2 separate regions of the Homo sapiens genome follow, and region 1 is linked to region 2. A link means that fine-mapping ties the variant in region 2 to the expression of a gene that starts in the linked region. Tissue or cell type: whole blood. Region 2 holds a variant in brackets; the other region holds the start of a gene. All regions are shown on one strand. Distances are from middle to middle. Region 1 holds the start of BEND7 (BEN domain containing 7). Region 2 has its middle 15 kb from the start of PRPF18.

Region 1 (8,340 bases), 42 kb before region 2:
ATCATGCAGCTACACTTGCTGGAAAGTCTCAGAAATGCTGTTTTAGCTCTGCTCATCCCTGACGTGAGCTGGGAACAAGGATGGTAAGAGGAAAGCATGCTGTTCCCCCTGTCCCAAAATGCTGGTGTGAAAGGAGCACAAAGTCAGGAAAATGAGGAGCTGCTTGATGATAACTAGCACTATCAAGAGCTGGTTAGGCAGACAGTCACACTTTTATTTTCCTTATGCTTTTTGACTGTAGATTTAATTTAATTTTGTCATGGCAGGATTAGCAACTGGGCCACAGAGGTGAAGGGACATTATAAGACAGCACATTAATCCTCTATCCCACCCAAGGCAGAAGCAAAACCAAACAAATAGCAGCTTCCTGGAAATTGAATTTCTGTTATCCAGATGTCAAAGATGTAATACCCCAATTACACAAACTATTGCCAGTGAAGCATGCCAACGAATATGCAATGTAAATGGGGTGAGCGCAGAGCCACAAAACTGCACAGTCAGCATCTGGCTCTGTGAGTGAGTGATAATTAGCACTGTGTGTAGACACTAATAAACATTTATGTCTGAAATTACAACTTTTAGCAATGTTAATAAGGGATATATTGGCAATCTGTAAAATAAAAGGTCTTGAAAAGAATGTCATACATTAAGCAATGGCAGACATTTCCCGTTCCTGAACAATTTCCTTTTTTCCCCCTAATTGCAAATGGTCACGATGTTTTGCTGAGGTATTAATTGACATAGGAACCTACCTAAAAAAATGGGCTGTGTCTCTTTGGCCTCCCCATTAACATCGTTGCTGAATTCTGGGATCTTATACACCTCGTGGTGATAATCTGGCATGAGAAAACAACCAAAAATTAGAATCCTAAGGACCTCAAGATAGGAATAAGCAGTCAAGTCTAGAATCTCATTCTATTTAGTTTGTATACTCTATAATTTATAAATAAACTTTTTGAGAACTGAAATAATCACAGAATTTGTAGTCAATAATAATTCCTAAAACTTTGCTTATTCTGGAGTACGCAAACTTGAAAGATTACTTTGGCTTTAGAAGACAGCTTTGCTTGATCACACCATGTTCACGGTAAATTGTACCCACAGATGCCAATTTTTAGGCTTTTTTTCTTTGAGGTGGCAAGTATGTTTGCCCAATCATAGAGCAGGGGAGGTTTCCAAATTTCTCTTCACAACCCATTTTCACCAGCATATCAACAGTATGCTTTAAAGTTTAGCCAGCACTCTAGTTTTCTCAGTTTACCCAGAAAATCTCAGCCTTTAAGCAGCTTAAAGGCAAGCACACATGAAAAATACTGATTTGTTATTTCAAATGTAGTATGATTTGGATAAGAAAGCAAGATTTTCATCTTTCACACAAGTGACTCTTTCGCATTCAGCTACTGCACTTTATTTAATATGCAAGTTTATTTTCTAAAACTGCACCTGCAGAGAAAGAGAAGAATCAGACCTATAATTAAAAGAAAAAGAAAAAAGGAAAAAGGAAAAACTTGCTACGTCAGTCAAAGTTTCAAATACAGTATTTTACAAGCTTCTCTATGGAGGCTACTGCATTTTTGCTTCTATTTTTGAAAAGCAGGGTCACTAAGGCATGAAAATAGAGGTTCCTCCTTAACACCTAGTCCCCTTTCTCTGGCCTTAGACCTCACAGGACAAAGTCAACAAAACTACTCTCACTTTTAAGATAAAGCAGTTAAGTTCTCTGAGGTCATCAATAAGAAAGCAGCTTACATTCCTGAATGAATCAGATAGCACCAACAGGGCAATCACCCAGACAGAGACTTTTAAAAGTCCAAGTAACTGAGTAATCAACACGGATGTGGAAAAAAAAATTTACTCAGAAAGTGGGAAGAGCCAAGTATTTTGAATGCGTGAAACTATTTCAGGCCTCTTTCATTAAACAGTATCCAAACTAAATTAGGGGAGGCAGATAAGAATGGATCTTCAAAATGCCTATAATCAAAGCATTTTCAGATGAACCAAATCCACATCTTAGCTAGCTTAGCTCAGTTTGAAAAATTCGATTACTTGCAATTGTCCACGATTTTTTCACTAATTTTCATCAGTTTACACGTGACTTCTGCAGGTTGTTGGAGTTTCTACCCTGATGCCAATGCTAGAGAAAACGACAGAGGAAAAGTGGACAGGTTGGGGTTTGGCTTTGACCTCAACTTGATTAAAAGACGACATTTAAACAGAGCGGGTCTAAACTCAATATGAGGACTTGTGACATTACAATGAAAAAAGTCACCTGCCCCTAATTAAAGATGACAATGCATTTTGAGATATATTTTCACGATGGCTCTTGAGTTATCATTTTTTTAAAAAAAAAAGTCAAATCAGGAAGATAAAGACTCTTAACAAGTAACTGAACACAGACAAGACTGTATTCCACTTTCCCCTCCCTGACAAAATACAAACCCTAGAGTGTGGTGTACACCTGTTAATTCGTCAGAAACTAGATGGATTTCTTTTCTTTCTTTTCTTTTTTCTTTTTTTTAAAGGATGCTTATCTGACTGCTATATGATCTAGTCTAAAACACCTTTCCAACCCAAATCAGCTAGCTAGAGATGTTGGATGTCAACAATTCCGCCTTGGGCTTGGACACGGCGTGAGCTTCTTTCTCCTTCTTAAAAAGAACAACAACGGTCATCCTTTTTCCTCCTTCTCTTGGCGGGGGGAAGGGGGAAGACCCCAGAAAACAAAAACAGCAAATCTCAGGTCCGAGGGTCCACGCTCGGCCTGATGGCCAGGCAGGTCCGCGGCCGCCCCAGCCCTGCCCCGGAGGCGCCCCGAGGAGGGCTCGGGCCCCCCGGTGTCATTGTTTGCTAATTTCCTGAGCTGCCCTCCGACTTGTTTACGTTAAATAACATCCCTGCTCCCCCCGCACAACTTTCCCCGCCGCCCGGCGTGTGCGGCCGCGGCCCTGCCTGCCAGCCCGGCGGAGGCACCGGGGGACCGGGAAGGACCGGGGGCTCCGGGAGGGCGCGCCCCCCAGCGTGGACCCCCGCGGGCGGCCGAGGGCGCGGCGCCCGCTGCCTGCCCCCGCCGCCCCGGCGGCCGCTTACCTCGGCTCACCAGTTTGAAGCTCTGGGATTTCCTGCTTCTTTTCCTCTCGGAGAACTCCATGGTGCGGGGAAGGCGGCGGCGGGGGCTGAGGAGGCGGCGGCAGCGGCGGCAGCGGCAGCGGCGGCAGCGGCAGCGGCGGCGCGGGCTCGTGTCACCGCGGCGGAGCCGCCGGGACCAAGGTCCGCGCCTGGAGTCGGCGAGGGGAGGCCGCGGGACGGGAGGAACCACCGCGAGCCGGCTCGGGGCTGCAGGCGCGGGGCCCGGCGGCGTGGGCTCCCGGGCGAAGTTGCCCCCGCGCGGCGCCGCCTCCCGGTGCCCTAGGCGCCCCCGCGGCCCCCGCTCATGCCGGCCCGCGGGTTCCAGACGCCGCCCGCCGCAGCCCAACTTTCCGTTGGGAGCGGGCCGGGCCGGGGCGCGGCGGCGGCGGCGGAGGCGGGGGGCGGCTCGGGGCGGCCGGCCCGCCTGGGCTCAGCCTGCGGTCGCGGCGGCGGCGGCGGCGGCCCCGAAGACGCGGCGGGCGGGCTGCGGGGAGGGCGGCGGCGGGTGCAGAGCCGGCCGGGGCGCTGACCGCCCCCGCGGGAGGAGGGGCGCCGGCGGAGGGGGCGGTGCCGCTGGGACCCCAGGGCCACCTGCTGGCGGAGCCCGGCCGCCGCCATCCCCGGGGGCCGCCGCCGGCCTGGCCGCGCGGCGCCCCGAGGAGGCGCGGAGGCCGCGGCGCAGCGCCCTGGCCCGGGCCCGGCCGGCCTGCCTGCCCCCGGGGACGACGCCGCCGCCCGGGCCTCCGCTCGCAGACCCCGCTCGCTGGCCTCCCTCCGCCGCTTGCTGGGCCGAGCTAACTCCGTGCACCTCGCCGTGGGGGCGCGGACCGCCCCGACAACCACCTCCCCGCCCTCACATCCCGGGCGCCCCGGGGCCCGACGCGCTGATTTTAAGCAAGTTTTAGGGGGAAAAAACTTACCCATTTGCGCTCTCTCTAGAAGGACAGAGAGGAGGTTTTAGAATATTGTGGAGAAGAATATAGTAGAGAGCTCCCATTCCCTAACCCAGGCTGGGCGGATTGTGGAAAGAGCCGAGTCACATTCAAGGAGAGCACTTGGAATGGGGGGCTTGGTGGCCCTGGGGACTCTCAGGAGGCCATGGTCAAGGCAGGTGCAGGGCACTATGCTTCTCCACGTCATATGTCGGAATCATGGACCCAAACACAAAGCGCTTAGTAGTTATGTGTAATATTCTTTTCGGGGGATCAGAGAGCGCACTTCAGGCACCATTTCTTTCTCACATCTTTCGAGTGGGCCAGGAAAAGAATTTCACACTACCTGGGAATGGTAGGACAGGAACATGACGGGACATGCGTGAAAGTATCTGCCAAACCCAACCAGGAAGAGGGTAAAGAGTCGGGGGATGGGGGGGCTACCTCTCCGGCACGGGACAAAGGCCAGTGGCCCCAAAAGAGTAGAGAGGAAAAAGGGGAGGTTGACAAATGTGATGAGTGTCACGTGGGTCTCACCCAAATGAGGCAGCCGCTGAGGAACCGCTCTTATTTCAGGGACACAGAGTAGGACAACTGCCGAGGAAGGGGGACATTGAGGCAGCTTGCAGAAACACACATGGAGAAACAGAACCAAAGAGCAGGGTAACCAGCAAACCAGGCAGTGGAGGCAGGGATGGGTACCCATCCCGAGATCTTGGGTGATACCAAAGGCGGCACATCCGGAAGGCTGGTTATACCTAGCGTGGAGGGGAGAGGGAGAACTGTTTCTTCCGTTCAATAAAGCAAACCCTTCAACAAGAGGTTCTTAACCTTTTTTAGTCACTGTTTCCTTTGAGATTGTGTTCAAAGCTCAAGGGCCCTTTTTCCCAGAAAATATGTATGGGACATATAAAATTTAGTATAGATTTATTGGAGTTCTTAGACGCGCTTTGCTGCTCTCAGAAAATTAGTGGTAACAGTGATTAAAGCAACTACCCTATTTGGGTTTCTTCCTTCCCTGCCACCCCTTTCTTTAAAATCAGGCATTAAAATCTGAAGATGTTTTGGATTTTTTTTTATTTTTTATTTTTTGAGACAGAGTCTCATTCTGTCGCCCAGGATGGAGTGCAGTGGTGCGATCTCAGCTTACTGCAACCTCCACCTCCCGGGTTCAAGCGATTTTCCTGCCTCAGCCTCCCAAGTAGCTAGGATTACAGGCATGGGCCACCACGCCCAGCTAATTTTTTGTATTTTAGTAGAGATGGGGTTTCGCCATGTTGGCCAGGCTGGTTTCAAACTCCTGACCTCAAGTGATCAGCCCGCCTAGGCCTCCCAAAGTGCTGGGATTACAGGCGTGAACCACCACGTCCGGCTGTTTTGGATGTTTTTAAAGAAACAAAGCATGCAATTTTGTTCCCCAGGCTGGGATCCATTCTTTCTTTATGTAATGCCTTTTAAAATGTTATTCTCAAAGCCGTAAGGCTAAGTTCTACACTGACTGAGGAACTTCCCGGATCGTTCATGCTTTGGAGCATATAATGAGATTTTATTATGCTTAAACTATGACGAACCCAGTGAAGGTGTCATCCCAAGAAGTAAATCCCTGGAGAAGGTATTAACAACTTAGCATTTTCAGTTCAAGTGGGAATGCAAATTCCATTTACTGAAGAGAATATTTTTGATATAGTTAAGAATAAAATATTTGAGTAAGAATATTTTTAAATAGTAGTCATTTCTCCTTGACCCTTTTTAACCTGGCTTTCCAAAGTTGGTCTATGAGTGAGTTGGCCTGCAGAGGACACAGGCTACGCTTGTCTTATTAGCTTTTAGAGAAAATAAATGTCTGTTTACTCTGCATTTTGTGCAAATCACTATGCTCTTATCTAACAAAAATGTATATATCACATTTAGTATTAAAATTAATAATAATGTTTAATTAAAATGAGGTTGCTTGGGGCCAGGTGTAGTGGCTCACACCTGTAATCCCAACATTTTGGGATACAGAAGGATTGCTTAAGGCCAGAAATTCAAGACCAACCTGGATAACATCCTGAGACCCGGTCTCTACCAAAAAATTAAAATATAAAATAAAACATAAAGTGAGATTGCTTTAAGTAGCAGGTATCCATATAGTAGCTGATCCTTATCCTTGGGGAGTATGTCCAAGACCTTCAGTGGATGTCTGAACCTGAGGATAGTACCGAACCCCGTATATACTATGTTACCATCAAACCCCATATATACCGTGTTTTTTATTGTTTTATGTTTTCTAATAACCAAGCCAACAAGTGACTAACGAGCAGATAGTGCAGACAATGTGAATACGCTAGGCTAAAGAATGATTCCTATTCTGGGCCGGAAGGAGCAGGTTGGCTAAAGATTTCATCATGCCACTCAAAATGGGGCACAATTTTAAATTGATGCATTGTTTATTTCTGGAAGTTTCCATTCAATATTTGCAGGCCATAGGTGACTGCAGGTAACTGAAATCATGGATAAAGGGGGACTACTGTATTAGCCTGTTCGGGCTATCTTAACAAATACCACATACTGGGTGACTTAACAGCAGCTTATTTTCTTACCATTCTAAAGGCTGCAAGTTTCAGATCTAGGTCTGGCAGGGTCAGTTTCTGGCGAGGGCCCTTTTCTTAGCTTGCACACCACTACACTTACATGGCATAGGAAGAGAGCTGTCTTTCTCTCCCTCTTCTTGTAAGGCCACCAATCTTATCAAATTAGGGCTCCGCCTTTATGATCTCTTTTAACCTTAATTACCTTCTATTAAAGGTTCAATCTCCAGATACAGTCACGTTAGGAGTCAGGGATTCAACATATGAGTTTGTGGGGGACACAAATCAGTCTGTAGCCATCTTGTTTTCACTCAAATATAATGTCTGTATTGAGGGGTCCTGGAAAGTTTTCTAGGGGATCTACTGAAGTCATTTCTTTACCCCATTCTTTCCAATTTTAGTATATGTGCTGCCGAAGCTAGCACTCTTTGCCTCATTCTTAAAGGCCCCCTAAAGTTCCAGAACCACAGGTTTATGTGTTACTGGAGATCAGAGATAATTGGTCAAATATTCAATGACATCACGCAGGGCAAACATTTTATTATATGGCCATGCTTAAACCCACTTGATTATAAAGATTACATGTTGGTTTCAATCTTTGACAAAGCCAGATAATTTGGCCAGAAAACCTGAAGTAACCTTACCGCTAATACTTGAAATGCTCTTCCTGAAAACTGTCCTGAGAGGAATAGCATTATGAAAAGTTTCATCTTTATTTAGAGCTCTGCTGTCGAATAGAAATACAATGCAAGCTATGTATGTAATTTAAAATGTCCTATTAGCCACACTGAAAAAAGTAAAAATAAACAGATGAAATTCATTTTAATAATTTATCTTATTTAACTGAATACATTAAAATATTATCATTTTGACACATAATATGAGAATATTATTATTGAGATAGTTTATATGCTTTTTGTTATACAAAGTTTTGAAATTGGTATGCATCTTACCCTTAGATTACAAATCAATTCAAACTAGCCAAATTTCAAATTGTCCATAGTCACATGTAGTTACAGGTGACCATACTGGGCAGCTCAGATTTAGAAGGAATGTATGATTTGAACCATGCTATGTACGTAGATGTAGTATGTCTACAACTTGATTACTGTTTAACTGTTTTATTAATACACCTCAGAAAGAAGATGAGCAGAATGGAATTATTGGGCTTCAGGCTTTTTATAATCTTTGATTGGATTTTCTGGAATTGAATATCCTGTCATTAAATAGATTCTGGGAATCCTTCAGGAAGATTTAATATGTATAAATATCCACTTTTCAACATTAGGACAATCACCCATCAGACGGTCATGGAAGGAATAGATGCCCTCCTTTTAGCTGCCGTTTCCCAAGTGTTGCTGGCCTAATGCAGTTTCTACACCCGTTTACTTCATTGGTTTTGGTGATTGTAATTTAAGAGAAAGGAGGCAGTATTTATAAGATATTTCATAAGTGAAAATGAGAGTTGGAATGTTCCACAAATAATATTACCTTATATTTTATATGGGGCTTCTTTTACAGCTCAAGCATAGGTATGCATTATCTAACTCTTAATAGTTCTATGAGATTGGTATATATTAATATTCCAATTTTGCAAATGAGAAAAATCCATTCTGAAGACCATTTTTTAGTGAAATTAGAATGGTCTGCTGTTTCCTGACTCTTAAATATGATGCATGAACCTTATTTTTTTTTACTTGGTTCTTTAAAAT
Region 2 (8,340 bases):
CACACCTCTTCAGCCCTAACTGGAGATAAGAATAGGTGGGAAAGGGGCTATTAATTTCAAACATAACATGGAGATCCAGGACTTGGGTTCCAGGCTTCCAGTTCTGCCTTGACTCTCACCTCTGCTTTCTTACCCTTGAAAGCCAAAGCAAAATTCTCTGCGTCTTCTGGCCAGCCATCCTATATTTTATTGACTCTATGACAGCCATTCATTCAGAGATTCTGATGTAATTGCTCTGGTATAAAAAAAGTGCACCCTGTTCACAATAGCAAAGACTTGGAACCAACCCAAATGCCCATCAGTGATAGACTGGATAAAGAAAATGTGGCACATGTATACCATGGAATACTATGCAGCTGTAAAAAATGATGAGTTCATGTCCTTTGCAGGGACATAGATGAAGTTGGAAACCATTATTCTCAGCAAACTAACACAGGGACAGAAAACCAAACACTGCATGTTCTCACTCATAAGTGGGAGTTGAGCATTGAGAACACATAGATACAAGGAGGGGAACGTCACACACTGGGGCCTGTCGGAGGGTGGGGGGCTGGGGGAGGGATAGCATTAGGAGAAATACCTAATGTGGATGACAGGTTGATGGGAGCAGCAAACCACCATGGCACGTGTATACCTGTATAACAAACCTGCACATTCTGCATATGTACCCCAGAAATTAAAGTATAATTTAAAAAAAAGTGCACCATTAAAAAAATTCACCACTAAGAAGGAAAAATAAACATTCTCAATTATAACTGCGTGATGTCATCAACTGAAAAAATATGTCCCCTTTTCAGAGAAGTTAAAACTGAAAAAAAAAGTCACGTTAAACTGGGTGAAATGTGGTCTTTAACGGTGTCTTGATAGATATTTCTAACACGTGGGGGACATTCATAGCCAGCTTTTCCCATGGCCATTACTACTGCCACTTGCAATGTTCTCAATGTTCTGTCCCTCCTTTTGGAACGTGCTGTCAATTGTAGCAGCTGTAGTTATAAGTAGTTATAAACAGTGCTTTTTTTTTTTGAGATGGAGTCTCTGTCACCCAGGCTGGAGTGCAGTGGGACGATCTCAGCTCACTGCAACCTCTGCCTCCTGGGTTCAAGCAATTCTCCTGTCTCAGCCTCCTGAGTAGCTGGGAATACAGGCGCACACCACCATGCCCAGCTAATTTTTGCATTTTTAGTAGAGACGGGGTTTCACCATACTAGTCAGGCTGGTCTCGAACTCCTGACCTCAGGTGATCCACCCACCTCGGCCTCCCAAAGTGCTGGGATTACAGGCTTGAGCCACTGCGCCCGGCCAGTGGTGCTCTTTTTGATGCAAACCTGTGAAGATTGTATATTTTGGATGTGATGGCTAACACAGAAGGATGCAGTGGCAGAGGATGCTAAAGAGTGGATACAATAGGAAGAGTATGGAATATATCAGAGGATAAGATGTTTAGGGAGGGGGTGCATGTGTCTTTTTAACCACTATGATATAGAATATTTCCATTTCCCTCCTCCTCCAAAAAATGCTCCTTCGTGACCCTCTGCAGTCAATTCCCAGCCCAAGCCCCAGCTCCTGGCAGTCACTAATCTTTCTATCACTATATTTTTAATGCTCCTGAAATTTCATATAAACGGAATCATGTAGTATATAGTATTCTGTGTCTGGAATACTTCACTTAACATACTGTTTTGGGACTTTCCAGGTTGTTGCATATATCAGCTGTTCATTCCTTCTTTATTTCAGAATACAGTTCCTTTGAATGAATGATACTATGGTGCATTTATCCATTCATTAGTTGACATGTATATTTGGGTTGTTTCTCCAACCCAACAAGGAAACATTCAGTCTTTCACCATTACATATGATGGTGACTGTAGGTTTTTGGTAAATGCTCTTTCCTACTTTGCTGCAAGTTTTTATCATGAATGAGTGTTGGATTTTGTCAAATGCTTTTTGTGTGTGTGTCAACTAAGATGGTCACATGATTTTTTTTTGTTAGCCAGTTGATACAGTGGATTACATTGATAAATTTTTAATTAATCAATTTTTGTTTGTTGAGCCACTCTTGCATATCTGGAACAAGTTCTACTTTATGTCCTTGAATAACCAAAGCAATTCTAAGCAAAAAGAACAAATCTGAAAGCATCACATTACCTGATTTCAAATTATACTACAAGGCTATATTAAACAAAATGGCATGGTACTGGTATGAAAGTAGATACATAGACCAATGGAACAGAGTGGAGAAATCAGAAGTAAAGCCAAATACTTACAACCAACTGGTCTTTAACAAAGCATACAAAAACATAAATTGGGGAAAGGACAACCTATTCAATAAAAGGTGCTGGGAAAACTGGATAGCCATATGTAGAAGAATAAAACCGGGTCTCTGTCTCTCACCATATAAAAAAATCAACTCGAGATGGATCAAAGACTTTAAGACCTGAAACTATAAAAATTCTAGAAGAAAACCTAGGAAAACCCCTTCTGGACATTGGCCTAGGAAAATAATTTGTGACTAAGGCCCCAAAAGCAAATGCAATAAATAAATAAATAAATAGGACTGTATTGAAGAAGCTTTTGCATGCCAAAAGAAATAATCATCAGAGTAAACAGACAACCCACAGAATGGGAGAAAATATTTGCAAACGATGCATCCAACAAAGGGCTAATATCCAGAATCTACAAGGAACTCAAACAAACCAGCCAGAAAAATAAATAATCCCATCAAAAAGTAGGCAAATGACATGAATAGACATTTCTCAAAAGAAGATATACAAATGGCCAGCAAATATATGAAGAAATGCTCAACATTACTAATCATTAGGGAAATGCAAATTAAAATCACAAAGAGATACCACCTTACCCCAGCCAGACCACCATTATTAAAAAGTCAGAAAACAGGCCAGGTGCAGTGGCTCAAGCCTGTAATCCCAGCACTTTGGGAGGCTGAGGTGGGCAGATCACCTGATGTCAGGAGTTCGAGACCAGCCTGCCCAACATGGCGAAACCCCATCTCTACTAAAAATACAAGAAATTAGCCGGATGTGGTGGCGGGCGCCTATAATCCCAGCTACTCGGGAGGTTGAGGCAAGAGAATCACTTGAACCCAGGAGGCGGAGGTTGCAGTGAGCTGAGATTGCACCACTGCACTCCGGCCTGGGCAACAAGAGCGACACTCTGACTCAAAAAAAAAAAAAAAAAAAAAAAAACCAAAGTCAG[G/A]AAACAATAGATGTTGGCACAGACATGCTAAAAAAGGAAGGTGGGAATGTAAGTTAGTACAACCTCTATGGAAAGTGGTATGGAGACTTCTTAAGGAACAAAAGTAGATCTACCATTTGATCCAGCAATCTGGCTACTGGGTATCTACCCAAAGGAAAAGAAGTCATTCTATCAAGAAGACACCTGCATATATATATTTATCACAGCACAATTCACAATTGCAAAGATATGGAATCAACCAAAGTGCCAATCAACCGATGAGTGGGTAAAGAAAATGTGGTATATATACACCATAGAATCTACTCAGCTGTAAAAAAGTGAAATAATGTCTTTTCAGCAACCTGGATGAAGCTGAAGGCCATTGTTCCAAGAGAAGTAACTCAGGAATGGAAAATCAAACACAGTATATTCTCACTTGTAAGTGGGAGCTAAGCTATGGGTATGCAAAGTCATGCACACTGGTATAATAGACTTTAGAGATTCAGAAGGAAGGAGGGTGGGAGGGCGGTGGGGGATAAAAAACTGCATATTCAGTACAATGTACAGGACTTGGGTGACAGGCACACTAAAATCTTAGACTTCACCACTCTACAATTCATCTGTGTAACCAAAACCACTTGTACTCCAAAAGCTATGGAAAGAAAAAAATCCTACCTTTTCATGGTGTATAATGATTTTTATACATTGTTGGATTCAAGTTGCTAATATTCGGTTGAGGAATTTTGTGTCTAAGTTCATAAGTGATATTGGTCTATAGTTTTATTTTTCTGTAATGTGTTTGTTAGGTTTTGGTTTCTGGGAAACTGGCCTCATAAAAATTAGTTGGGAAGTACTCCCTCTTATATTTTCTGGAAGAACTGCAAAATTGGTGTTACTACTTTAAATATATGATAAGTCTCCAGTGAAACTCTCAGGACTTGGAGATTTCTATTTCCACCCCACAGGGTTTTGTTTGTTTGCTTGTTTGTTTGTTTGAGACAGAATCTCTCTCTGTTGCCCAGGCTGGAGTACAGTGGTGCACTCTCAGCTCACTGAAACCTCCGCCTCGCAGGTTCAAGTGGTTCTCCCACCTCTGTCTCCCGAGTAGCTGGGACAAGTGTGTACTACTGTGCTTAGCTTAGTTCAAAATACTTACTAATTTCCAGCCTGGGCAATGTGACGAAACCCTATCTCTACAAAAAATAAAAACAAAATGAGCCGAGTGTGGTGGCACATGACCATGGCACAAGCTATTTTGGGGACTAAGGTGTGAGGATCACTTGAGCTCAGGAGGTGGAGGCTGCAGCAAGCCATGATCATGCCACTGCACTCCAGCCTGGGTGACAGCAAGACCCTGTCTAAAAAAATGAAACTTGCTAATTTCCCTTGTGATTACTTTTTTGATCCTATGGATTATTTGTAACCGTACTGTTTAATTTCCAAATACTGGAGTTTTCTAGATATTTTTCTGCTATTTCTAGTTTAATTCATTGTTGTCAAAGAACATACACCGTATATTTTTAATTATTTGAAATTTATTGAGAATTGTTTAATGCTTCAGAATATGATCTTAGTGCATGTTCCAAATGGACTTTAAAAAGAGTATGTATTCTGATGTTTGGGGCAGAATGTTATATAAATTTCAATTGGGTCATGCTAATTGATAATGTACAAGTCTTATATATCCTTGCTGATTTTCTGTCCACTTGTTCTCTCAATTACTGATAGTGATGTGTGGAAATCTCCACCTATAAGTGTAGACTTGTTTACTTGTCCTTTGAGATCTAACATCTTTTGCTTCATGCATTTTGACGCTATGTTAATACTCATTTGAGATTGTGATGTCCTCTTGGTGCAGTGACATTTTTATCATTATGAAATGTTCTTCTTTCTCCCTATTAATGTTCCTTATTCAGAATTTTGCTTTGTCTAATTAACATAGTCACTGCTATGATCTGAATGTTTGTAGTCTCTCAAAATTCATATGTTGAAACTTAACCCCCAAAGTGATGGTATTAATAAGTGGGGGCTTTGGGAGGTGATTTTTTTTTTGAAAGAACTCTGCCCTCACGAATAGGATCAGTGCCTTCATAAAAGGCTTGACCCTTATAAAAGAGGCCAGGCTTACCCCTTTTGCCATGTGAGGACACAGCACGAAGCTGTCATCTATGAGGAACAGGCTCTCACCAGACACCAAATCTGCTGGCATCTTGATCTTGGGCTTCCCAGCGTCAGAACTATAAACTATTGTTTATAAATCACCCAGCCTAAGATATTTTTTACGGCAACTCAACCAGACTAAGACAGGTAGTTTCATTTCTTTTTATTAATGGTTGCATGGGAATATCATTTCCCATCCTTTACCTCTAACTTTATATTTAAAGTGAGATTCTTGCAGTGAGCCTGGATCGTGCCACTGTACTACAGCCTGGGCGACAGAGCAAGACTCTGTTTCAAAAAACCAATGAGACAACATACAGTTGATTTGTTTTTGAAAATCCAGTCTAATAATTTCTGCCTTTCAATTGTACTGTTTAGTCAATTTGCACTTAATGCAATTATTATTATCATTATTTTATGTATTTTTTTTGAGACGGAGTCTCACTCGGTCACTCAGGCTGGAGTGCAGTGGCACAATCTCAGCTCACTGCAATCTCTGCCTCCCAGGCTCAAGCGATTCTCCTGCCTCAGCCTCCCGAGTAGCTGGGATTACAGGCGTGTGTCACCACGCCCAGCTAATTTTTGTATTTTTAGTAGAGACGCGGTTTTGCCATGTTGACCAGGCTGGTCTTGAATTCCTGACCTCAGGTGATCCGCCTGCCTTGGCCTCCCAAAGTGCTGGGATTACAGGCTTGAGCCACTGTGCCCAGCCTCTTAATGCAATTATTGATTTAAATAGTCAATTACTTTTAAAAAATATATTAAAAATGAGAAGCCTTTCATATTTATCCAGATGTTTAGCAATTCTACATTTTTCTTTCCTTTTTATTTTGCATGATTTTTCTTCAGACTGAAGAACTTTCTTTGATACTCTTTATAGTACAGGTTTACTGGTGATGAATTCTCTCAACCTTTGTCTGAAAAAAACCTTCAGTTTACTTTCATTTTTGATATTTTTGCAGAGTATAGAATCCTAGGTTGACAGTTTTTGTCCCCTAATACTTAAAAAATGTCACTTCTTTGTCCTCTGGCCTGCGTGGTTTCTGATAGGAAATGTGTAGTCATTCTTTTCTTTTTTTTTCTTTATGTAATAATTTTTGTGAGCAGCTTTTAACACATGTTCTTTAGTCGCTGCTTCTCAGAAATTTGACTGTGATCTACCTTGGTGCAGTTTTCTGCCGGGGTCCATGAACTTTTGGGATCTGAGTGTCTTCTAGTTTCCATCAAACTTGAGAAATATTTGGCCATTAATTCTTGACATATCTCCAGACCTATAACCTTTCTGGGCTCCATTACAGACACGTTAAACTGCTTGATACTATGCCATGGGTCACTGATGCTGGCTTCACGTTAAAAAAATCTCTCTCTCTTTCTTCGAATCATTTTTACTGTCTCCAAGTTCACCAGTATTTTCTTCTGCTGTGCCTTATCTGCTGTTAATGCTGTCCAGAGTATTCTTTATTTCAGATATTGTGTTTTTCATCTCTAGAGGTTCCATTTGGGTTTTGTTTTCTTCCATCTCTCTCTTAATTACGTTTATGTGTATTCACATTAAACATAAAACACTATATTTATCATTTATTGTCTAGAGAATGCATTCTCTGCATTCTTTTCTTTCCCTTCCTTCCTTCCTTCATTCCTTCTTTCCTTCCTCTCTCTCTCTCATCCCTCCTTCCCTCCTTCCCTCCCTCCCTTCCTTCCTTCCTTTCTTTCTTCCTTCCTTTCTCTCTTTCTCTCTTTCTTTCCAGTGCCTCTCTCTCCTTTCCAGTATTCTGCTCCATGGATTTCACCTCTTCAATCTCCCAGAACCGCAATTTCTTTTTCCTCTACTCAGTGAGGCAAGTGGGTTCTGTTGGGGTTTCTCCTTCCTGTGCTGTATCCTGGAAACTGCCTCCAGAATTCCAAGAATCCAGGAATCCATGAGGTAGGGCTCACTTTATGTGTTTTCTCTTCTCTCCATGAAGAGAAGAGAAGCTCTTTACTGCTGGTTATCAAATGTGTGAGAAATAGTTGTTTTATATATTTTGTCTGTTTTTTTTTGTAGTTGTTTATGGTAGGAGAGCAGTTCTTATGGCAGTTAGCCTTCTAGCTCAGAAGCAAAAACTCACTATGCTTTTCCATGATTTTTATGACTATTATTGGAAATTTATACTTCCATATGATCTTGAAGACCAGTTTCTTCTATTACAAAACCCTGTACCATAAGAATTATAAGTGAAACATGGACTCTCTATATTACTTTTTGGACATTTGACTTTATGTTATTTTACCTCCTTAGCCAATAGCATATTTTGCTATTCCTTTATTTGGGTGTTGCTTTATATCCTTCAATGACACTTTATAAATCTTTCCTCATGTAGGCTGTGTGCAGCGGCTTATGCCTGTAATCCCAGCACTTTGAGAGGCCGAGGAGGGCGGATCACTTGAGGTCAGGAGCTCAAGACCAGCCTGGCCAACATAGCAAAACCTCGTCTCTACTAAAAATACAAAAATTAGCTGGGCATGCTGGTGGGTGCCTGTAATTCCAGCTACTCGGGAGGCTGAGGGAGGAGAATCGCTTGAACCTGGGAGGCGAAGGTTGCAGTGGGCCGAGATTATGCCACTGTACTCCAGCCTGGGTGACAGTGAGAGTCCATCTTGAAGAAAAAAAAAAAAAGGAATTATAACTGAAACATGGACTCTCTATATTACTTTTTGGAAAATTGATTTTATGTTATTTTGCCTCCTTAGCTAGTAACATATTTTGTCATTCCTTTATCTGGGTGTTGCTTTATATCCTTCAATAACATTTTATAAACCTTTCCCCATGGAATCTGGACTTTTTTGTTCTTTATTTCTAAGATTTTGTACTTTTTAAATGTAACATTTTCCTATTTCCACTTCTATCTCATTATTGCATGCACAGAAAAAACATCAATTTTAAACTTATTTTGAATTTAGCTATATTACATTTCCTTGTTAATTCTAGTTTTTAAAAAGTCAATG

What was found.
Region 1: it holds the start of BEND7, and the variant in region 2 is fine-mapped to the expression of BEND7 in whole blood (TOPMed, PIP above 0.99).

Annotation. Positions count from the first base shown.
Region 1 is chr10:13,525,386-13,533,725 of GRCh38, forward strand. BEND7 (BEN domain containing 7) reads right to left here and starts at 3,629. Exons shown (of 9, transcript NM_001369863.1): 1 at 3,088-3,629; 2 at 753-836. The coding sequence starts at 3,148. It overlaps BEND7-DT (BEND7 divergent transcript), which reads left to right and starts at 3,219. Exons shown (of 2, transcript XR_930674.3): 1 at 3,219-3,267; 2 at 4,635-4,879.
Region 2 is chr10:13,567,390-13,575,729 of GRCh38, forward strand. No RefSeq gene overlaps it. Among named protein-coding and RNA genes, the nearest start is that of PRPF18, 15 kb to the right of the region's middle. The variant G/A (reference allele first, on the strand shown) is at 3,217.